Linked DNA regions of Homo sapiens: region 2 is linked to region 1. The links come from fine-mapping of genetic effects on gene expression. A gene starts in region 1. The other region holds a variant in brackets. All regions are shown on one strand. Distances are from middle to middle. Region 1 holds the start of EZH2 (enhancer of zeste 2 polycomb repressive complex 2 subunit). Region 2 has its middle 20 kb from the start of EZH2.

The links.
Region 2: its variant is fine-mapped to the expression of EZH2 in nasal epithelium (TOPMed, PIP above 0.99).

Annotation. Positions count from the first base shown.
Region 1 is chr7:148,876,992-148,889,362 of GRCh38, forward strand. It overlaps EZH2 (enhancer of zeste 2 polycomb repressive complex 2 subunit), which reads right to left and starts at 7,300. Exons shown (of 20, transcript NM_004456.5): 1 at 7,173-7,300. It overlaps LOC124901767 (a long non-coding RNA gene), which reads left to right and starts at 8,198. Exons shown (of 2, transcript XR_007060579.1): 1 at 8,198-8,492; 2 at 9,366-10,805. RefSeq lists silencers at 6,464-7,053, 7,214-7,583, 7,704-7,933 and an enhancer at 6,554-7,245.
Region 2 is chr7:148,898,302-148,910,672 of GRCh38, forward strand. No RefSeq gene overlaps it. Among named protein-coding and RNA genes, the nearest start is that of EZH2, 20 kb to the left of the region's middle. The variant C/G (reference allele first, on the strand shown) is at 7,149.

The DNA.
Region 1 (12,371 bases):
TATAGTATCTATATAAAATAATGACTTAGAAGAGTACCAAGCATATAGTGAGCCCTAAAGGAATATCAATTATTTTTTAATAAAACAGATCTTTGTATTGACCTTAAAAAAAAGCCATGTTAGAACCAAATAACTTGGTCCCATTTTTATAAAATGTATGTAAAAATACATATTCATATATGAATATATTTGAAAATTTGGGGAAGAATATACACCAAACCGTTAAAGGTAGCGAATGAGATAACAGGGATCAATACGCTTTCATTTTATAAATGTCTACATTGTTTCAGTAGTTTAAAGCGAACACATTTAATCAACAGACATTTCTAAATTGAAATAGATAAAACGTGTGGTACCATTTTTGTAACTTACCAGTCCTAAGCACGTAATTTTAACTTGAGAAGTGTTTGGTTCCATTAATGAGAAAGTACATCAACTCTAAAATAATATTGGCACAATAACTGAAAATCATTTATCAAACACTTTTTGCCAGGTACAGTTCTAAGGATTTCACATGTATCAATTCCTTTAATCCTCACAACCACCTTATCAGATGTTATCATTATCCTCACCAATTTACAGATAGGGATGCTAAGACATCAAGAGGATAACACCCCAGACACAAATTGGTAGCTCAGGGACTGGAACCCAAGAAACTGTCTCCAAAGACCACATCCTTAGAACTCTACTCTCCTCCCCTCTCAAATGCATACTATTACCACTCTGGCTGAGAAAGAAATCCTCAAAGTTAACCTTTAGTCTGTCTAGGGTTTCACACTGTACCTTCCATCAAACTACAATTACCTACTTTTAAATGTAACTTTCTGAATGATTCAAATAAACTCATTCTTCTCGGAGCTGACATATCTTTAATCACCCAGAAAGCCAGCAGATAACACAGAACAGATAATATGGAGTAGATAATATGTAGTGAAACAGAACTAAGTTTGGATCCCGAATGCAAATTCCCAGCTGAATAATCCTGGGCAAATTCTTAACTCCTCCCCTGTAGACAGTTTTCTTCAGTTTCCTCATCTGTAAAGGTTTTCGGAGTGTGTTATTAAATTTTGTATTCTGGTAAGATATATAGATATAGAGAGAGATATATATAGATACAGATACATATCGTGTAAAATTTACCATTTTAACCATTTTTAAGTGTACAATTCTGTGGCATTAAATATATTCAAAATATTGTTCAACCATCACTATTATCCATCTCCAGAATTTTTTCACCATTCCAAACAGAAACTCTGTATTCATTAAACTCCCCATTCACCTCTCCCCTCACAGCCCTGGTAACCTCTATTCTACTTTCTGTCTCCATAGAGTTGCCTCTTCTAACTACCTCATATAAATGAGATCATACAATTTTGTATTTTTGTACAAAAGGTTGTATCTGGCTTATTTCACTAAGCATAATATTCTCCAGCTCCATCCATGTATCAGAATTTCACTCCTTTTATGTCTGAATTATTTTGAAATCTTTTTACTTTTATTTTGAAATTTCACTCCTTTTACGTCTTTATTTCACTCCTTTTATGTTTTCATTGGTTTATATACCACATTTTGTTAATTCGCCTGTTGGCAGACACAAGGTGGTTCTTACAAATATTAAAAACAAAAGCTGGGTGCAGTGGGTCACACCTATAATCCCAGCACTTTGGGAGGCTGAGGTAGGTGGATCTCTTGAGTTCAGGAGTTCAAGACCAGCCTGGGCAACATGGCAAAACCCTGTCTCTACAAAAAATACAAAAATTAGCCAGGCGTGGTGGCATGCACTTGTAGTCCCAGCTACTTGGGAGGCTGAGATGGAAGGATCGCTTGAGCCCAGGAGGCAGAGGTTGCAGTGAACTGAGATCACGCATCTGCACTCCAGCCTGGGTGACAACAAGACCCTGTCTCCAAAAAAAAATTTTTAATTTAAAAATGTTTAAAAAGTATCCAGGCCAGGCGTGCGCAGTAGCTCACGCCTGTAATCCCAGCACTTTGGGAGGCCGAGGCAGGCGGATCATCTGAGGTCAGCAGTTCGAGACTAGCTTGGCCAACGTGGTGAAACCCCATCTCAACTAAAAATACAAAAATTAGCCAGGTGTGGTGGTGCGTTCCCGTAATCCCAGCTACTCGGGAGGCTGAGGTAGGAGAATCGCTTGAACCCAGGAGGCAGAGGTTGCAGTGAGCCGAGATCACGCCACTGCACTCCAGCCTGGGCAACAAGTGTGAGACTCCATATCAAAAAACAAAAACAAAAACAAAAAACAAAAACAAAAACAACACAGCAGGGTGTGGTGGCTCACACCTATAATCCCACCACTTTGGGAGGACGAGGCAGGTCAATCACTTGAGGTCAGGAGTTCCAGACCAGCCTGGCCAACACAGTGAAACCCAGTTTCTACTAAAATATAAAAATTATCGGAGGCTGGGCACAGTGACTGACGCCTGTAATCCTAGTACTTTGGGAGGCCAGGGCAGGTGGATCACCTGAGGTCGGGAGTTCGAGACCAGCCTGGCCAACATGGTGAAATCCCATCACTACTAAAAATACAAAAATTAGCCAGGCCTGGTGGTGCATGCCTGTAATCCCAACTACTTGAGAGGTGAGGCAGGAGAATCATTTGAACCCAGGAGGTGGAGGTTGCAGTGAGCCAAGATGGTGCCACTGCACTCCAGTCTAGGTGACAGAGTGACACTGCATCTCAAAAAAATAAATAATAAATAATAAATAAATAAATTAGCCGAGCGTGGTGGCGCACGCTTGTAGTCCCAGCTACTCAGGAGGCTGAGGCACAAGAATCACTTTCGAGACTCCGTCTCAAAAAAAAAAAGTATCTGGGTCAAACACAATGGCTCAGCCTGTCATCCCTGTACTTTAAGAGGCCAAGGCAGGAGGATTGCCTGGAGCCAGGAGTTTGAGATCAACGTGGGCAACAAAGCAGGATCCCATCTCTACAAAAAATTAAAAAATTAAATAAGTCACCACAATGGTGTGCACTGGTAATACCAGTTACTCAGGAGGCTGAGACAGGAGGATCCCTTGAGCCCAGGAGTTTAAGGATGCAGTGAGCTATGATCTTGTTCTGTCTTGCTATTGTTAATGGAAAACAAGACCAATTATTAAGAAACTGCTAACCACATAATCTAAACACAAATTTGTCATATTTTTATACCAAGTAGTGGAACAGTGGCAAGATATGGAATGGTGCAACTATCTTAGAAATTTACCAGCTGTAACTTTTGAGGTATCACTAAATTTGCTAATCTGTATTTAAATCATTTTAAAAGAATGATGAAAAGCATCCCAATAAATGATCCAATTACACTGTCGCTACATCCTTCAGTTTTAGCTCCAAAACCTACCTCAATTTACTCCAATAAAGAACTCATGAATTATAACAAAACAGCTTTTCAGTTAAAAGATCTACTACCCTCTCTCGCCCTTTCCCTTCCTTATATTTTTGCAAAGAGATCATCAATATCAACATTAAATCAAATTAAGCAAATACTATTACTAAATATCCAGATGATTCATCAAGTTCTCTCCAGTTGTCCGAGTGTAATAGTTGCATCTAAAGGATATCTAATGTTTAGTACTACAGATTATAACTAGGAAAAACTTGGAACTTGTTCACCTTGACAACTATTTTTCTTTGTAATCATTCCCTATTAAAGAGGGAGAAAAACACATTTCAAAGTTCCTCACATGAATACTAACATATCCTGTTCACTTTGCAAGTTCCTTTGTCAAATTATTTCCCTACATTTTTCATATTTCCTTAATTCATTCAACTATATTTAAAACCCCTATTCTCTAGCAAATACCAACGTAGGTACTAGGTATACAAAGAAAAAAATAAGACAGAGCCTCTACCAGGAGGCACTTTGACTGTAGGGAAGAGAGGGATGCATAAACAAGTGATTACAATACAATTGAGTCATGCTACAATAAAATATGATAAAACCCTGTGGGAACACAAGAGTGGGAATTCAGGGAAGACCTCCAGAAGGTAAAGTATGTATCATCTGACCATGAACCTTTCTCTGAATTTAATGAATTGCTGCTGTTCACTTATGCTCTCCCCCGAAGATTTCACCTACTCATATAGAATCTATCATGATTTACAGAAAATTTGTCATCTATACTGATATAAAGACTTCAAGGCTAATCCATAAATCATTGCTAATTAACCACAGAATACATTATATTGGAGGATTTGTCCTTGTTGGTTTTTAAAAAGCAGATCAACTTTCTCAATCACTGCTCATGTAAAGGGTAATACTGAAATAAATTCAGAATCCTTGAGCACACTACCTCAAAAGAAGGAAGGTATCCTGGGAAAATTCCAGTATGACTTGGAGAAATTTGCCTAAAATTTTTAAATGGCCAACATAAAGATATTCACTTAAATGTATTTGTGCAAGGCAAAGCTAGGTATCAAAGTATCAGAACTTTTTCTAACTACACTAGATCAACAAGTGTGTTTTAAGTCACTGCTACTTAAACTGACTAAATACATTCTCAATTGTACCAGAAAATAATTTAATATGAATTTTTAAACCAATTCCCCAAAGAGATGTTTTTCAAAATATCTCATGGCAAGTACAAAGAATAGTAATTATCAAATACAGAGAACACTCAAGGGCAAAGTTAGAAATTTTTATCCTAGGCTGGGCGTGGTGGCTCACGTCTGGATCAGCATTTTGGGAGGCGGAGGCGGGTACATCACTTCAGGTCAGGAGTTCGAGACCAGCCTGGCCAACATGGTGAAACCCTGTCTCTGCTAAAAATACAAAAATTAGCCGGGTGTCGTGGTGCGTGCCTGTAGTTCCAGCTACTCGGGAGGCTGAGGCAGGGGAATTCCTTAAACCCGGGAGGCAGAGATTGTAGTGAGCCCAGATCCAGCCACTGCACTCCAGCCTGGACGACAGAGCAAGGCTCTGTCTCAAAAAAAAAAAAACATATACACACACACACACGCGCGCGCACACACACACACACACACACACACACATATGTATCCTAAAATATCCGAATTTCTGCCAAAAATCTGCATAACTACCTTATCTCATAATGGACAAGATTATTAATAGGATTTTTTAAATACAGAATTAATAGTAACTAATATAAACGTTACTTTTTTGTTATAATGTCTCAACACTTAGACCAGCACCTGGAATGCCCGTACAGTGGTGTCAACACTCTCCAAAATATATGTAATAAATTTATATTGCATTTATTTGTCTCCATTTTTATGAAACCTTAAGTTAGCAGATGCACATTAGATCTTTATCATATAGGACAGTGCAACCAGAAGAACGCCTATGTTTTTCTAACTTGTTTTCTTGGAATATATTCACTTTCCACAAAAACGAGAATTTAAGATGCAGTGTTCCTGTTTCCGGGAAACCTTAAATATTACATCACCCAACACACCTCCGAAAAGAGAGAACAAGACGCTTTATATCTATGACTAGAATCCTACCTATTCCTAACTTTAGAGACCATGAATAGAAAATTAAAATATATCTTAAATACTTGTTTTCCTGCAAATAAAATTACAAATAAACAAGTTAGGATTACACACTTGTACAGTATTCCTAAACATGAATTAGTTGCTAATGCTTATGAAGAGTAATAGAAAATAAACTCCAAAACCCCTAAAAGTATAAACTACATTCAATTGTGACAGCATTCGTGTTTTTCAAAGGTTTATTAAATGCTGTTTTATGATGACATCAAAACGCCACAAAATTAAACTAATAATAACTTGCTTGAACCCTAAAAAGCAAGCCTTTAAGTAAATAGCAAAGACACATTTTTATTTCCAAATGAATTTAAATGTTACAGATCCTGTGTGATAAAGGAAGTTTAACTGTGGACAGCACACGTTAAATTTCTTAGGCAACAAACATTTCTCCATGCAGTCTTTTCTGAATCACCAAAGCTATTGTTCACAGAAAACGAGACCAATTAATAAGAAACTGCTAACCGTATAATCTAAACACACATTTGTCATAGCCATTCTATTTTGATCACCTACTTCTACCACCTCATCCTCATTCAACCCGTCGGGATTTGGGGAATAATCTGGCTGAATGACAGTTGATTTCGTTAGCACCTGTCGCCATTCTCAGATGTATCACACAAGTTGGCCAAAACAGCTTGTAATGTTTAAGGATTACGATTCTTTAGAAAGTGGCAACTCACTAGGCGTTCACCAAGTTTTCCAAAAGATCGTGCTTCTCGATTCCTCCCGCTTTCAAAAAGTAACCCTGTGGCACAGATTTTTGGGGGGAACGGAAGGGGATGTACACAATGAAGTGGGAATTCAACAGGACGCCCTCCAGAAACACAATCAATAGAGAGCAGAGCAGCTCGACTCTTCCCTCAAACTTAGCATAAAGCCAGACCAGGCGGCGAGGGCAGCCCGCGACCGCCGGAGCTCAGGGGGATTTCGGGGTGCGTCGTGGGGAAACGTCAGAGGCGAAGCTACTCCGAGTTCCCCGCCGCGAACGTCGTCCCGCGAGCGCCGCGGCCCCAGCCCGGGGTCGGCGCGCCCGGGACCGGGGGCGTGCGCGAGGCGAGGGCCGAGCCCTGCCCACCCCGGCAGCGGCCCGCGCCTCCCCACGCCCCTCTCCCGCCCGCCGGCGGGCCCGGGTGTCATGCCCCTTCCCCTCGCGCCGAGCCCTCCGGAGACACAGTCCGTCCTTTGTCTGAGTGCGGACTCGGCGGCTGGGTCCCACCAACTTGTGTCTGTCCCGTCCCACCCGGGCGCTCCCGCCGCGGCCGCGCCACACAAAGGAGACTTGAGGCTCGAGCTGCCACCCTGGACCGGGCACCGGAACGCCCCGACCCCGGCCCCGGCGCCCCGGCCAGGACAAGCACCGGGAAAGGAGCCCCCCACACGCCCCCCGCCCCGCAGCTCCAGGGGTGTGCGCTGCCTCACTCGCAGGGTCCCGCGGGCCAGCCCGAAGCTCACAGCTCCTTCCGGGGAGGGGGGCTCTCCCCTCACCCTCCACCCCCCGCACGCCTACAAACGCGGCGCCCCGGTGAGCCCCGCTCGGCGATACCCGGGACCGGCACAGCAGTGGCGGGGAGGTCCTGGCGCCGCCGCCGCCGCCCGGTTCGCACTCCCGGAGCCCCGCCGGCCGGGCCGCCCGCAGCGGCGCGTTACCTTCGTCCCGCGCGCCGACTCGCGTTGTTCCCGCGCGTCGCCCCCGCGCGCCGCCGCCGCCGCCGCCGGGGCTCCACTGCCTTCTGAGTCCCACCGGGTGTCGGACGCGACCGGACCGAGCGCCAAACGCGGCAGCCCAATCGCCATCGCTTTTATTTGGCCCCCCCAGCCCAATCAAGCGCCGCCCCGATTGGCGGGACGCGAGGCGGGCGCCCGTCCAATCACAGGGCCCGCCGGGCTCGGAGGCGCCGAGCCAGCCCCACGCAGAGTGCGCTCAGGGCTCGTGGGCGGGCGGGCACTGGCAGCGCGTGCGCGCGCGGGCGGCGGCGGGGTTCGCTGTAAGGGACGCCACTGGCCGTGTGGAAGCGCCGCCGCCGTCTCTTTGTTCTTTCGCTGAACACACGGCGCCTCTCAGGAAGGCGGTGTGCAGGCACGCGGGGACCGGGAGACATCGCGGGGGCCCGGAGCCCGCCGCGGACGGGAGGCGGGGAGGATAGGTGGCGGGAACCGGCCGAAGGGCGGGACGAAGCGCCGGCGGCTCTTGGCGGGAACCGGCGCCGCAGAGTTCCCGGGCGGGGGAGGGGCGGGGCGGGTGCTGGAAGCCAAGTTTGAACCAGTTCAAAACTCGGGGGTGGTAACGGTTTTAACCGCCGCGCTCGTTTCCCCGCGCGCGGAGCCGAGGCCCGGGCTGGCCGCTCCTAGTGGTGCCCGGGGAGGGGAGGGCGCGGGCCCCGGAGGTCGGCTCAGCTGTGGCGCCGCGTTTGCCGGGAGACGCTCGCCCGGCCCGCGCGCTGCCGCCGGACCCGTTACTACTTTTTTTTTTTTCTCCTGAGACGGAGTTTCGCTCTGGTTGTCCAGGCTGGAGTGCAATGGCGCGATCTCGACTCACCGCAACCTCCGCCTTCCGGGTTCAAGCGATTCTCATGCCTCAGCCTCCCGAGTAGCTGGATTACAGGCATGCGCCACCACGCCCGGCTAATTTTCTATTTTTAGTAGAGACGGGTCTTGGTCAGGCTGGTCTCGAACTCCCGACTTCTGGTGATCCGCCCGCCTCGGCCTCCCAAAGTGCTGGGATTACAGGCGTGAGCCACCGCCGCCGACCCGGGCCCTGTTTGATTATGTCTGCTGCTGCCTTGGCCGTTTTTTCCCCCACCGCTGGACTTTGGCTGGCCGAGCTTGCAGTGCTTATCGCCCTAGAAACCTGTGAAAGGGCGACATTGCTGCCATTTCAGACCCTTCCACTGTTCGTAGTTCTAAGCACGTGTCAGTGTTAAAAATCCTTTATCAAGATGAGCACTGTTCACTTGCCGCCTCTGCAAAGTGTGAGGATATTTGCAAGGCGCGGTGGCTCACGCCTGTAATCCCAGCACTTTGGGAGGCCGAGGCGGGCGGATCATAAGGTCAGGAGATCGAGACCATCCTGGCTAATAACGGTGAAACCCCGTCTCTACTAAAAATACAAAAAATTAGCCGGGCGTGGTGGCGGGCGCCTGTAGTCCCAGCTACTCGGGAGGCTGAGGCAGGAGAATGGCGTGAACCCGGGAGGCGGAGCTTGCAGTGAGCCGAGATCACGCCACTGCACTCCAGCCTGGGCGACAGAGCGAGACTCCATCTCAAAAAAAAAAAAAAAATTGATCTTGGTTATGGGGGGTCAAGCTACCTCAACCCAGAGGAATTAGAGGGATTCTGCTTAGGATACAGTCTCTCCTATTGCTTCATGTGGCAATGCAGTTAAGAGTATTCCGAATTTATTTTTACTAGGATGTATCTATGGGGTAAAATACCATTGTCATGTAAACTGAGATTCCATATTGAGAGTTCATACTGGAAACTGAAAAAAGGTCACCTATGAACTGTTGGGGTAAAAATCTGAAGAAATATTTTTAATGAATTTAATAACTAGCCAGAATTTTTTTTTTTTTTTTTTTTTTAAGAAACGGAGTCTCACACTGTCGCCCAGGCTGGAGTGCAGTGGCACCATCTCAGCTCACTGCAAGCCCCGCCTCCCGGGTTCACACCATTCTCCTGCCTCAGCCTCCCGAGTAGCTGGGGACCACAGGTGCCTGCCACCACACCCGACTAATTTTTTGTGTTTTTAGTAGAGACGGGGTTTCACCGTGTTAGCCAGGATGGTCTCGATCTCCTGACTTTGTGATCCGCCCGTCTCGGCCTCCCAAAGTGCTGGGATTACAGGCGTGAGCCACTGCGCTGGGCCAGAATTTTTCATCAGATGATTTAGCCCATAATTTTCCCGCCTTTCCTAAATCACCATCCCATTCCTCACATATATTCTGAATCACTCCAATGTTGGAAAGTATATATAAAGGGAAGCTAAAAGATAAGGAGAAACAAGCAATCATGTGCCCAGATAAAAGCAAAATTGTCTTGTGAATCAGTGATAACACTGCAAAAAGTAAATAGGTTATGCAGCTGAGATGTGACTGTAAAATAACGTAACGAATTATAGCTGCCATTACTTCCAGTCACGAATACATTCATTCTCCAAGATAAAATGCATCTGTCTAGGCCACCAATTTACAATTTTTTAAAACCAGCAATTTAAACCTCAGAAATTAACTACTTATCCCTAAGTTGCTTATCAAATTACTGAACTTATCAGTCCTGTAATACTAAATATTAAAACAAGGCATTTTTAAGAGGAAGATCAACGAAATTAGAGACTACCATAAAGCAAATCAAAGCAGTATATAACTCTGCAACATGGTGTGAAATGTCATGTAAATTGCTAGACGTTTAGAATCAAGGAATGGATGGATCAAGATATTCCAGGCCAGACTTAGTGGTTCACACCTGTAACCCCAGTACTTTCAGAAGTCGAGGTGGGAAGCTCCGAGACCAGCCTGGGCAACATAGCAAGACCCTATCTCTACAAGAAATTTAAAAAATAACTGAGTGTGGTGGCACAGAAGTACCTATGGTCCCACCTGCCCCTGAGGCTGAGGTGAGGGGTCTGCTTGAGCTCAGGATCCCAAGGTTACCGTGAGCTATGATCACATCACTGTGCTCCAGCCTGAGCAACAGAGTGAGACCCTATCTCTTTAAAAAAAAAAAAAAGTGATTGGACAAAATATAATTATTGGCACCAAGTGAATGTTAGGAAAAAAAAAAAACACGTACAAAGAACTTTATAGAGCAGCCATTCCCACTGGGAAGAGTGTGTAGGTTGGACTCTAACCATTAAAGAGCTAGGTGGGATGATACTAAATATATATAACAGACATTTAATATAAATATGATATGAAGGCTAAGGTGAAAAGGGATGCCAGTGGATCACAGTATTTTCTTGATTCAATGATGACATTGTCCATTTAAGCAAGGTAGTTTAGGCCACAGTAATGGCAGAAAAAGGGGATAATTTGAAAATATTCCAGAAGGACTTCATTGTATGTGGGGTTCATGATGTCTCGCGACTCCTTTCCGTATATGACAAATACAGCAAAGTTAGGAGGGGGAAGAAGTATTTTGCTTTTGCTACCAAAAGAAAAACTGTCTGAAGATGTCTAACCCAGGAAAGCAAGAAAATATACAGGCCTATTTAACAGACCTCTATGACTATTTCAATGGGAAAAAAAATTTTTAATGTGTGTAATGAATAGTAAACATATAAGCAAGTGTGTGTGTGAATGCCAGTTACTCAAGGGGCCTAGATGAAGCAGAAAGCCAGGCTAAACACAAAGGTGGATATGGAGGTTGAGGGTCACCAAGCTTTTTCATTTCTGTAAAGATTGTTCTGTGTGAACAACAAAGATTTGGTATTAAAGTTAAAAGATGAAACGAAAAACAGTTAAGCCCCAAAGTTGTAACCCCAGGGCCTAGCGTGCCCGGCACATAGCTGATTCTCAGGGTTGTCCTGGGGGAACTGGAGAAGATGGAGTGCAAAGTTAAGGCTGTCAGCCAGCAAACTTCCCTTTCCATCCCTTCACTTCTCAGAACCTCCCTTTCAACCCCAAAAATGGGATTTACTTCCCACATATTATACAGCACTCATTTATGGAGTGCTTACTCTGTGAATGATGATTATACCGAACATGAGGTGGTGATAAAAATAAGGCATGGGAAGAGGGGAGTATTGGGTGCAATTGCTGTAATTTTAAAACAGCTTGGGGCTGGATGTGGTGGTTCACGCCTGTAATCCCAGCACTTTGGGGACCGAGATGGGAGGATTACTTGAGTTCACAAGTTCTAGATCAGCCTGAGCAACATAGCGAAACCTCATCTCTTCCAAAAATACCAAACTTAGCCGGTCATGGTGCCTATAGTCCCAGCTACTCTGGAGGCTGAGGTGGGAGGATCGCTTGAGGCTGGGAGGCGGAGGTTGCAGTGAGATGGGACCACAGCACTCCAGCCTGGGAATAAAATAATTTTTTAAAAGCCACTTGGTTAAGGAAGCCCTCATTTTGAAGGTGACATATGAAGAAAAACTTGAAGGAGCTGAGGGAGCATTTACTGAGAGAAGACTGTTCTAGGCAGAGAGAAGGGCCAGTCAGTGCCTGGGCCTGAGGCAGAAGCGTGGCTGATGTGCTCTGGCACAGGAAGGGGAAGAAAAGTGGGAAATGATGTTGAAGAATGGAGGCGGCACAAGCAGATTTTTCAGCTCCTTGTGGACCATAGTTAGGTCTTTATCTTTTATAAAATGAGAGGATTTTGAGTGGAAAGGCGATTTGATCATTTAAACAAGATCATTCTAGCTCCTGTGTTGAAAGGATCCTGAAGCGGAGCCGGGGCCAAATCAGAGAGGACAGTGATGAGTCCGTTGTAATAAGCCAGGCAAGAAATGATTGTGGCTCAGACCAAAGTGGTAGCAGTGAGCTGGTGGGAAGTGGAGTCTGGATATATTTTGAAGGTATAAGCAACAGAATTTCCTGACAGATTGGATATAGGATACAAGAAAGATTGCATGTAAGAAGTATCAGTTCTCAATACAAGAAGCCTGAGAAGGGATGAGCTCTCATGAAGAGCCAGAGTGGCATTATACTGCAGCCTGGAACACACCCCAGGCTGGGGTCAGGAGATGTGTGGCATGTCGAGAAACCTTCATAAAGATAACATAATTTTTGGTTGTGATTGAAATTAACCTGATCCTTTTCGGAACCAGCTTGAAAGAGTCACCTCTAGAAAACCCAAGGAAGGTGTGGTAGCCAGCCTCTAAAATGCTCCTTTTTGGCTTTGTTTTTATTT
Region 2 (12,371 bases), 21 kb after region 1:
CCCAGCTACTAGGGAGGCTGAGGCAGGAGAATGGTGTGAACCCGGGAGGCGGAGCTTGCAGTGAGCCGAGATCATGCCACTGCACTCCAGCCTGGGCGACAGAGCGAGACTCCGTCCCAAAAAAAAAAAAAGTGCCTAACAGAAGTTTGTAGCCAGAGCTGGGGTGTTGGAGCTGGAAACCAGTTAGTGCTGGCACCAAAGGAAAGTTGACCCATTTAATGTTAAGGTGACACCAATACAGCCACACAGGCTGTTTGTGACCAGTGTCCATTCTGAGTGGTCAGTGCTTGTGCCGTTGTCAGTTACTCAAAAATTTGAATTCCACCTCCCCTACCCACCCCAGCAGAGGCCTTGACAATCCTCCTATTTCTTTTTAAAATTTATTATTTTCTTCTTTTGCTACTGTCAGGATCAACCAGGTATGTCCTCTCATGTTTATTAGCCATCCCCAAAGCACCCACAAAACCGTACCACTCTTGTTAAAGAAGAAAAAATCACATGCTAGTTGAATGAATAATTGTTGACTTGCTATTACATGAAAACTCTTTTAGGTTAAATGGATGTGTTTGTTCTACTGTTACCATTCGTACCAAAAGGATTTTTAAGAATACCCTTTTTAAAAGAATTAATTTTTATAGCTTAAAACAATTAAGACAATAATTCATGACTCTTGAAAACATTTAAAAACCCAGTGATTACTTTGTTCAGATCCATGAGCAAACAAAGGGTGGGGCTGAAGGCTAAAGGGTTAATTCTGGGTTTGAGTTGTGAGCAGTTTCTTCAAATGTTTCTCTGTGTGTTGAGTTAACACCAGGTTTCAGAAAAGTAGGCAGAACATGATCAAGAATGAGAGAGGAAAAAATAGACATTTTAAAGCAGCAGTGGGGACTCAGCTGCCTACACACTCCTCCGTGGTCCTGAGCAACGGGAAAAGGGGTCCTGGGGCTGGGACCTGCCAAAACAGGGAACAAGAGTTCAGATCGCTAGTCCACCGTGGGCGTGGCTAGCCCAGGCCAGACTGGTTTGAGAAGCCAATGAGGCCAGTGATATTGCTGGCCCTGGTAAATAAGAGAGCTCAGAACCTTAGAAAATTAACATGTGTTCCATAAAATGCATTCTTCCAACAATCAACCAAGATCTGCAGGATAGAGTGCTCAAAAGCAAACTAGATGGGCTATTTTCTGTATTCCAACACTGAAAAAGAGTTGTAATAATGATTTATTTTTTGTTTGTTCGTTTTTTTAAGAGGCAGGGTCTGGCCCTCTCACCCATGCTGGAGTGCAGTGATGTGATCATAACTCACTGCAGCCTGAAACTCCTGGGCTCAAGCGATCCTTCCACCTCAGCCTCCCAAATAGCTGGGACTACAGGGGTGATATGACACCCAAAATGCTGAAACAGAGATGCGTAACTTATTTTATTTTACAGCATGTATATTTCATGGTCTCAGTTTGGTTGTGGTTTCATGTGCCAAATTGCACTAGAACAACAAAAGCATGGGCACTGTTTTCACATAGGGGATACAAGAAGCAGTGTGTGTCCTGTTAAGCTTGTGGGTCCTGATCCTAAATGAAATGATCAAAATTCATCTTCTTTTTTTTTTTTTTTTTAAAGAAAGGTGAGGTCTTGCTATGTTGCCCAGGCTGGCCTCAAACTCCTGGGGTCAAGCAGTCCTCCTGCCTGGGCCTCCAAAGTGCTGGGTTTACAAGCATGAGCCACCCAGCCCACCCAAGATGAACTATGTTCAAATCCTGTTTGTTAAGTGTGATCTTTAGCGGGTTACTTAACCTAAGATTCAATTCATCTGTAAAACAGAAATAATATAAAACATAATAATACATAATTCCTACTTCACAGAGTTGCTGTGAAGATTAATATGAAATACTGCATGTGAAGAACATGGCTGTTATTTTGGCTCCTAATTGTTAAAAATATTGGTCATGGCCGAGCACAGTGGCTCACGCCTGTAATCCCAGCACTCTGGGAGGCCGATGCAGGCGGATCACCTGAGGTCAGGAGATGAAGACAATCCTGGCTAACATGGTGAAACCCCGTCTCTACTAAAAACACAAAAAATTAGCCAGGTGTGGTGGCAGGCACCTGTAGTCCCAGCTACTCAGGAGCCTGAGGCAGGATAATCACTTGAACCCGGGAGGCAGAGGTTGTAGTGAGCCGAGACTGCGCCACTGCACTCCAGCTTGGGTGACAGAGCGAGACTCCATCTCAAAAAAAAAAAAAATTGGTCATTAACATATGGCCGGGCGCAGTGGCTCACGCCTGTAATCCCAGCGCTTTGGGAGGCTGAGGCGAGTGGATCACCTTAGGTCAGGAGTTCGAGACCAGCCTGACCAACATGGAAAAACCCCATCTCTGCTAAAAATACAAAATTAGCCAGGCACAGTGGTGCATGCCTGTAATCCCAGCTACTCGGGAGGTTGAGGCAGGAGAATTGCTTGAACCTGGGAGTCCGAGGTTACGGTGAGCCGATATCGCACCATTGCACTCCAGCCTGGGCAACAAGAGCAAAAAACTCCACCAAAAAAATGTATATATGTATTATGGATTTTGTAAAAACAATATCTGTACAATTCTGGCATAACAGAAAGGCAAAACAATGACAAAACAATTTTCTTTATTACATAGAAATACTAGGCTCACTCTAGAAAGGGACATGAGTACAATAGTAGTGAATGGTGATCTTTCTAAAAGCATTGTCAAGGTAATTCTTCTAAGCATTGCCTAAACATGTTCAGTATGAAGAATTTTATCTTCTGTGGCAGGAGTACCAGGCATCTCTCTTTCCTAAGATAGTTTCTTTAACTCTTAGCTCTGTCAGTTTCTAAAAACTGAGCTGGAACAATGTCAGAAGCTGGCCTTTGTTACCAGTGTTTCTTCCCTCACACTGCATTCTAGTTTTCACCTGTTGTCCCTTGGATCTTCCTGTGAACATGGCCATGTAACTTTGCAGTCCCTCCCGCCCGGCAGTGAGGTCTATTTCCTCACACTATGAATGCTGGGCTTGGCCCTATGACTCAGTTTAGCCAATGGCATGTCAGGGGACGTGATACAAGCAAAGGCTTGAAATGCATCTGCACATTTGGCTTGTCCTCTTACCCTCTCACAGCCCTGCCATTGCCATAAGAAAAACAAGTCCCAGCCAGCCTGCTGGTCCAAGAAGAGTGAGACAGGCCTGGAACCAACCTTCAGTGTGGAGTCATGCCCAGTCAAGCCCAGGCTAGACCAACTGACCTGCAGTCACAAGTGATAACACCTTTGCTGTTTAAACTAAGTTTTGGAGGGGTTTGTTACACAGCAGTACTAACTGATAAATATCCAACCCTGTCACCTTTGGTATACTGTAGATAAAGCTGTTTTTAAAAAAAAGTAATAATCTGGCTGGCCACAGTCACTCATGTCTGTAATCCCAGCACATTGGGAGGCTGAGGCAGGAGGATCATTTGAGGTCAGGAGTTTGAGACCAGCCTAGGCAACATAGCAAGACCGCAGTCTCTAAAAAATGAAAGTAATAATCCACAAATATATACATAAATGCATATGAAGTAGTATGTAAATTTATAGAAATACATATAATTAAATTTATTGGAGGAGAATATGCTAACTTAATTCAGTGGCTTTTTCCTTCCTTGATATTTTTAAATGGTTTATCTTTGAATACAATAGAAGTTGATTTTAAAATTCCAAGTGGTTTACTTGTCCAAATAGGCTTTTTTTCTTTTTTTTCTTTTGTTTTTCTCATAGAGACAGGGTCTCATTATGTTGCCCAGGCTGGTCTCAAACTCCTGGCCTAAAACGATCCTCCCACCTCAGCCTCCCAAACTGCTGGGATTACAGATGTGAGCCTCCATGCCCAGCCAGCTTTTTTACAACACATAAAAAATATAATGCAAACAGCTGGGCATAGGTTTAAATTTTTTGGCTGAGCACAGTGGCTCACACCTGTAATCCCAGCACTTTGGGAGGCCGAGGTGGGCAGATCACAAGGTCAGGAGCTTGAGACCACCCTGGCTAACACGATGAAACCCCGTCTCTACTAAAAATACAAAAAATTAGCCGGGCATGGTGGTGGGCGCCTGTAGTCCCAGCTACTCGGGAGGCTGAGGCAGGAGAATGGCATGAACCCTGGAGGTGGAGCTTGCAGTGAGCCGAGGTCATGCCACCGCACTCCAGCCTGGGCAACAGAGCGAGACTCTGTCTCAAAAAACATATATATAGAGAGCAAACAAAAACATTTATTTATTTATTTATTTTTATTTTTTGAAACAGAGTCTTGCCCTGTTGCCCAGGCAGGAGTGCAATGGCACGATCTCGGCTCGCTGCAACCTCTGCCTCCCAGGTTCAAGCGATTCTCCTGACTTAGCCTCCCAAGTAGCTGGGACTATAGGCGTGCACTGCTACGCCTGGCTAATTTTCGTATTTTTGGTAGAGATGGGGTTCCACCATGTTGGCCAGGCTGGACTAGAACTCCTGACCTCAAGTGATCCACCCACCTTCACCCCCAAAAGTGCTGGGATTACAGGTGTGAGCCACCGTGCCCGGCCAAAAAATTTAAACCTTAATAAATGAGTTGCTCTTTTATACCTGTATGCAGGCAATATGATGAAATAGTACAAGAATTTTATCAAGTTATAAATGCTTGTTTGGTTACTAACCTGAGTGATAAAATAATCTGTACCAGAAACCCCTATGACACGAGTTTACCTATGTAACAAACCTGCACCTATACCCCTGAATCTAAAATTAAAGTTTAAAAAAAAAGAAAAAGAAAAAGAAATCTTTGGAGCAGAAAAGCATAGAAACAATGTCCATGTCAGTTGGAAGTAGAGGTGTAGTCTCTGCCTATATAACTATTTCCATTCATTGAGTATTACAGACCAAAAATAAGATAAAATCCACTCTTTTTTATATCAGGAGGAATACCATTTAAACGCAGGTGATCACTCTATTCACTCCTGATTTTTCCCTTGCACTTCCTGCAGGCGTAGTTAGAAGACTAGCAAAATAATATAGTTCGCAGAATTCATTGAAAAACATCATCTAGTGGTACTTTTTAACAGAATCAATTTATTGTATTTTAAGCCATAAAAGATTATTCACTGTATCCACTGAGGCCCACATTTGACTGCAAGTAGCAGAAACCCTCTACTAACTATAGCTTAAGTCATAAGGATGGTTTACTCTTTACTTAACAAGAAACTCAGAGAAAGTCCATATCAGGATTGGTCTGCCAGCTTCATAAAAACTCATTAGACTCAGGCTCTTTCTGTCTTCTCATTTTGCATATTGGCTTATCATCCTCATGCGTGTACTCATGGTTGCAAGGTGGCTGCTGTAGTTCCAAGTATCACATGCAAATTCAAGGCAGAAAGAAGGGGAAGGGACTGAGTCAGCCCCTACTTTATCATGTATCAAGAAAGCAGAAGCTCTCCAGAAGCCTCCCTGAAGACTTCTCTGCATCTTATTGGCAAGAAAGGCAACACATGTCCATGGAACACATGTCCTAGCTTAAAGGGCAGCTGGGATATTTACAAGGAAAGAGAATGAGCTTGTCATGATTTCAAATATCAAGAATGATCTCCTCAGGCTGGGCACACTGTTGTCCTGAGCAAAGTCAGGGTTCTGTTAGCAGAAAGAAGAGAGGAAATGACTCTAAGGTACCCAAGCATCATCTGCACGTTGCCTTAGCTGCCCTTAAACACATTGCCTTCTCAATCTAATGGAAGCAGGAAAACAGAAAACACAGAATTGTGATTTTACCTTTTTGAGGGAAGTGGGGATACCTGAGCTTCTTTGAGCATCTGAGTAAGCAACAGACACTAATTCACCCCCAAATTTTCCAACAAGGAATTTTGGGGGATGTCCAGAGCTCCTAAAACCCATCTGTGGGTGACTACATGAAGAAGGCCGACCTAAAGTCAGCCCAGTCTTTCAACCTGGTCTTCCATAGTATACAGCTCCTGGGTTGTTCTGCTTTTTCCAGTTGGTTGTGTTGTGAGTCTGTTGGTTGCTGATTCTGTAAGAGGTAGTATAATTCCTTCTCTCTGTAACTGAGCTTGTAACTGGAAAAAATGACAATGCCTAAAATCGTATAACAAGAAAAATGGAATTTTCACTATTTCATGGTTCATTATGTTGAAAATAAAAAGACCAAAAGTTAAAAACTGAGTTCCTATTTCAAAGCACTATCAAACATCTAATTGCAAAATATTATATACAGGAAACTGCAGGGGTCTAATCCCTGCTGACAAAGAATTTATAATCTGAGACAATCTAGTGATAATCTCACTTGGGTTATCAAATGGGGGCAGGGCAGCAGATAATATTAAGTTATTAAATAAGGTAAGATTACTTTTAGAAGTATAAACTATTTTGAAAATGCAAAGTTCTGAAATAAGTCCAAACTCCATATTCTGACAAGTAAAATCAGAGATTGCCAATGTCTCTAATTATATCTGCTAAACAGATAGTGTACATACTTTGATTATGAAATAATGACATTGATTCTCAGGCGTGATTTGCAGAAATCAGTATCCTTACTTTGCAAACACACTTGGTAATGTGAGACAAATTTCTGGCAGCAGAATGATGATTCAAAATTCATTCTTAGGCAGAGAGAAAAGTATATAAAGGGAGTAGAACAAAAATTGTGGGAAATATGTGAAAATAATTTTTTTTTTGACTGGAGTAGGATAATTTGCTTTTCCATTTTATTTCCTTGTCAGTCCCAGTAAAGCAGTATCACGTGCAACTTTGTGCTTTTTTAAATATCTAAGCTTCTGGTTCAACTCTTCACATTGCTTCTCTAACAACAGACATTCTCCATGGCTCGTTTTCTTGCTTTCTGCTGAATTCTGTACTTTGTACTATTAATAGTTTTGATTTTGTGAAGACCTGAATCATTCTGTAAGCAGCTATGAAATATCTCCCGTGGCTTTCTGGCCTGGGGCAGATGGGAAAATTAACTCCAAGGAGAAAAGAGCACCCTAAACTGCCTTTTCTCAGGCAGACAGCCATTGATGTGATTTCAGTGAAAACCATCAAGCTGAAACATCAATATTCCTCCACCCTTGGTCCACAGAGCAGGCAGGGCTCATTAGCAAGCAGAGCCTCAGCTGGGTTCCATCTTGGGC[C/G]GGTCTGGGCTAAGGTTTCAACCCGGAGGCTGTGAGATCCTGTTTCCTCCACGTCTGAGCCCAGTTACCTAACCAGGTGCTTGTTGGAGGCTGCCTGCAATTGCAGCCCTTACTTTGGCCTCTTATTTCCTTCTGGCTCAGCCTCTAGCTCGACTCCAGCTGGCCTAGGTTGCTCCTGAGCACCAGTGGAATTGAGATAAATCACCCCAACCTTTACAGGCCTTCTTCGTAGGATGGAGAAAGGTCTGGGTCCCTGGGAAAACCGTAAAAATTGCCCTCTAAACATAATCAAAACTACAGTAACTTCACATCTATTTTTTCTTTTTGTATTTCATCCATGCTTTCTTTTTTCCCTTTTGTGACACAAATTTTTAGCAGAAACCTGACATTCTAGTAATCTAAAAGCTATTTTACTGTGGTATTAAAGACGTCCTATATAACAGAACTTGTGGTTCGTTTCATGAAAATTTATTTCCATACATACGAACTAACAATTTCAAAAACTCCAATGCATATAAAATTAATAAACCTGAACACTGCTTCACAGAACAACCATGGTGAAATCTACAAATTGAAATCGCTGTTGCAGCCCAGATATATGCACATTTTAAAGCCAGATGGCTTTCCTAACCAAATAAATGTCAGCCCTATAGTGAGAGGTCTTAGTACAAGGGTGGGAGGCACTGTAAGGACAAGTTCAGGCGTTGTTTAGGGTATCTGGGTTAAAACAACAGCAGAAGGTCAAGAGTTAGGTCCGTGGAACTATCCTGACGGGACAGACCAGAGTGGGCAAGATTCAGAGTAACCAAAGACGGCTCAGGTAGGAGAGAACCCTGGAGAAGAGACAGAGGGGGAACCAGCAACTACTGAGCACTGGATATATGCCAAGTGTTTACTGCTTGCTCTACATATATCAATTCTTTTTTTTTTAATTCATTTATTTTTTTTGAGATGGCATCTCACTCTGTTGCCAAGGCTGGAGTGCAGTGGCGCAATCTCTGCTCACTACAACCTCCGCCTCCCAGGTTCAAGCAATTCTCGGGCCTCAGCCTCCTGAGTAGCTGGGACTACAGGCATGTGCCACCACGCCTGGCTACTTTTTATATTTTTAGTAAAGACAGGGTTTCACCATGTTGGCCATACTGGTCTCAAACTCCTGACCTCAGGTGATCCGGCCACCTCAGCCTCCCAAAGTGCTGGGATCACAGGCCTGAGCCACCGCACCTGGCCTCAGTTCATTTAATCTCATGTTTAGCATGTGAGGGGGGTAGGTCTCCCCTTTTACACGTGGAGAAACTGGGTTGTATGGGAATTCCTTGGTCAGAAGCCTCCAGCCTATGAGTCCTCCGATGGTATAGATCCTATTCTCCATTTTATTTCCATCGTTCTGCACTGTGCCTTATACATAGAAGGCACTTAATAAACACTTGTTGCATAAGCAACCCTCCCTGACTGTCTTCCTGGTGAAACCTACCTGTTGGAGCAGATGGTACTGGACTTTAACAAGACTTAAGTAATTAAGGGTGCTCTGTTTCCTTTGAGTCTGGGGATCATTCATAAGCCTCCAGTGCCCTGATACAAATCAGGACCACATGCTCTGGACACATCTGAGTCTGAGCCGGTGTATTCACATCACGAAGGGGCTCCTAAGGTCAGGATCCTGGTTCGGCAGTCCAGGCTCTACAGTTGGTATCTCAATCTCACTTCATCCATTTTCTCTAAGCAAGGGAAGCACATGACATCTAGTATCTTCTCTCCATCTGACTTATTGCCCTCCCCACTCCTGGTGTCTTAGCAATCATATTGTGTCCTGTCTCACCAGGAACGTTTGATAAGATCATTCAGAACAAATGCAGATCACCAAAGGGATTATAGTTCTATTAATTTTGATTTTACATCTACGTTAGTCAAATTGATTCCTTCTGGGCTGAGATCTATGTGCATTTCACAATCGCTGTAACAGAAAACAGATCATCTTTTCATTTTCTGCTGTGACTTATTCAATTATACCTCTTTGCATCTAGAAAAAGCAAAAAGATTGTTTCTCAAAACAACTGAGCAGCTGAGGTGACTATCCGCGATTATGTGGGGTGATCACCAGTTTCCTTACAGCTGATGCCATCAAGTTTTTGGTGCTCCCTACCCACTTCCAACACCAACACACACACACACACACACACCCCACCTCCACCACCCCGTTTCAGTCCTTAAAGGGTCCTATAGCATATATTAAACTAATTTTTGTTTTACTTTTCAATTTTGAAAAAGTTATAGACTGAGAAAAAAAGTTGGCAAAATAGTACAAAGAATTCCCATATATCCTTCACCCAGATTCCCCATTGTTAACATTTTACCACACTGGCTTTAGCATTCTTTCTTTCTCACCCTCTGTTTCTCTCTCTTTTTTTTTTTTTTCCTTTTTTTTTTTGAGACAGTCTCGCTCTGTCACCCAGGCTGGAGTACAATGGCACCATCTTGGCTCACTGCAACCTCAGCCTCCCGGGTTCAAATGAGTCTCCTGCCTCAGCCTCCTGAGTAGCTGGGACTATAGGCGTGCACCACCATGCCTGGCTAAGTTTTGTATTTTTAGTAGAGAAGGGATTTTGCCATATTGATCAGGCTGGTCTTGAACTCCTGACCTCAAGCCATCCACCTGCCTCGGCCTCCCAAAGTGCTGGGATTACAGGCATAAGCCACCACGCCCAGCCATGTGTGTGTATTTGTAATATGCATGAATACACAGTATCAAAACACAACTAGTCAGTTCAGCTAAAGGATAAACCAGTATTTCACGTTTCTACACACTAGATGTATCGCACCACAAAGCATAAGGCATCACACTAAATGCCAAGCCATACAAGAATTGTCTTGTAGACAGCACATGGGGTGAGAATGATTTGCTCCCTCCCCAGACCTTGGAAATAAGAGGAAACAGATGTCTCCAAAGAGGTAGGCTGGGAAAATCAGGTGGATCAAAACAAGCCTCCCGCAAAGGACTCACTCAGCTTTATATGCACATATCCGGCAGCCTGCCCGGGGTCCACACCTGTGGGCTGCGGGTCCTCCTGTGTTCCCTGCTCTACTTGGTGACACTGCCACAATTTCCTGGACTCACCCTCACATTTTCTTTCATCTCCAGCTTCCAGTCAGTTACCCAATTCTGCTCATCTTAGGACCTATTTCTCAAATCCCGGATTGGGGGCAGGGCTAGAGACCACTCCGGAGATGACAGAGCAGTCCCAGTGAGAGACAGAATGAGGGCCTTTTATTTGGAAGGGCTTATTCAAAAGACACCCAAAGGTGAGAATTTAAGGAGACACCATCCAGGAAGCTACCCTGCTAAGGTCTTATGTGTGTGTGGTGTGGTTGTTTGCTGTTACACTGTATCTTGTGAGATTAGTGCTAGCTAGTGTAATAGCTTGGTGTGTAAGGAATTTGGGAAGTGGAATTCTAAATGGATAGCCTGCCACCACCATGAAAGCCCCTTACAGGAACCACCCAAGTCCCCTGGCAGTTTGTCAGAGTGAAGGAAAAGACCCCAGAAAGCGGCACTCGGGAACAGCCAGCAGAACTCACCGGCCAACCCCTAGGAATCTACCTACACTCATCTCCAAATTGCCAAGCAATATCTACACATTTTGTTGCATTAAAGGTGAGCGTTAAGCACAGATGTGTGGGATAATCATTGTTTGTAGACACTCTGAATAAGATCAAGCCTGAACCAGAAAGGAGTTGTGATGAGGATGAGAAGAGAGAAATTCTAAACTCTAAAGACGAAACGGGCTGAACTCAGTGACTGAATGGGAGAAGGAGCAGGATGAGCAGAGGGAGGAAACCTGTCCTTGTTGAGCCTCTGCTATTCGCCAGGTGCTTGTCGGATACTTTCCATATTTAACAGTATTGATGCGAGACAGCCATCATTCCTCCCATTCTGTGGATGAAATATTGACTTTCAGAGAGGTGAAGTGATTTTCCCAGGATCACACAGCTAACAAGGAATAGGACTGCCTGATAACTTGTATCCTTATTCCTTTTTTTCTTTTTAAGTAGTACAATTTAGTCTTCGAATGAATTTTTAAACAAAAGACCAACATGAAAACAGATCAGCTCTGGTCGAAAAGCGGTGAGGGAAAAGGCAAAACTAAGGAGACGGTGAAAAGATCAGCAGGTGCCAGGATCTGGGAGGAGGCAGGGACAGAGCCCAGAGGATTTTTGAGGCAGTGAAACTACTATTATGACTCAACCAAGAGTATTCCCTAATTAACCTATGGCCTGTGGGTGATAATGACATGTGATGTATCTTCATCAATCGTAACAAACGCACCGCTCTGATGCAAGATGTTGATGGTGTAGGAGGCTGGGGGAGTGGGGCAAAGGGCAGGGAGTATATGGGAAGCTTCCACTTTCTACTGAATTTTGCTGTGAACCTAAAAAGGCTCTAAAAACATAAAGTCTGTTTAAAAAAAAATTAAATAAGGGGTCCAAAGTTTCCCCCCCTTCTTAACTCACTCCTCCCTTTGGGTGGTCCCTGATGCCACCAAAGGTCTTCAAGGGCTTGAACATGTACAATATGAAAGCCACTGCCCCGGCTGGGCACTGTGGCTCACACCTGTAATCCCAGCACTTTGGGAGGCCGAGGCAGGCGGATCACCTGAGGTCAGGAGTTCAAGGCCAGCCTGGCCAACATGGTGAAACCCCGTCTCTACTAAAAATACAAAATTTAGCCGGGCGGGGTGGCAGGCACCTGTAATCCCAGCTACTCAGGAGGCTAAGGCAGGAGAATTGCATGAACCTGGAAGGTGGAGGTTGCAGTGAGCCGAAATCATGCCACTGCACTCCAGCCTGGGTGACAGAGTGAGACTCCAGCTCAAAAATAACAACAACAACAAAAAAAAGCCACAGCCTCACAATCCCCCACCCCCACCCCACAAGGAGAGCAAGAACCCAAAAGCAGCCCTCTCCAAATGGTTGCTGCACCATTCTCTCTTCTAAGCACCTGTTTCTGGCACCCTTCTAAGCAGCCTTTCTTTCTTCTAAACATCCTCCCCCAAACAGGTAGCAGGAATCTGTCTTCCAGAGGGTGGTCCTTGCAGGTGCTAGCACCACCTGAGACCTTCCAGCTCATAAAAAGCTCACCTACCCTGTCAGAGGAAAGGGAACCAGATAACCAAGATGGTCCAGCCTCACTGCTGCAGCCTCCAGGGGCCTCCTCAGGCCCACACA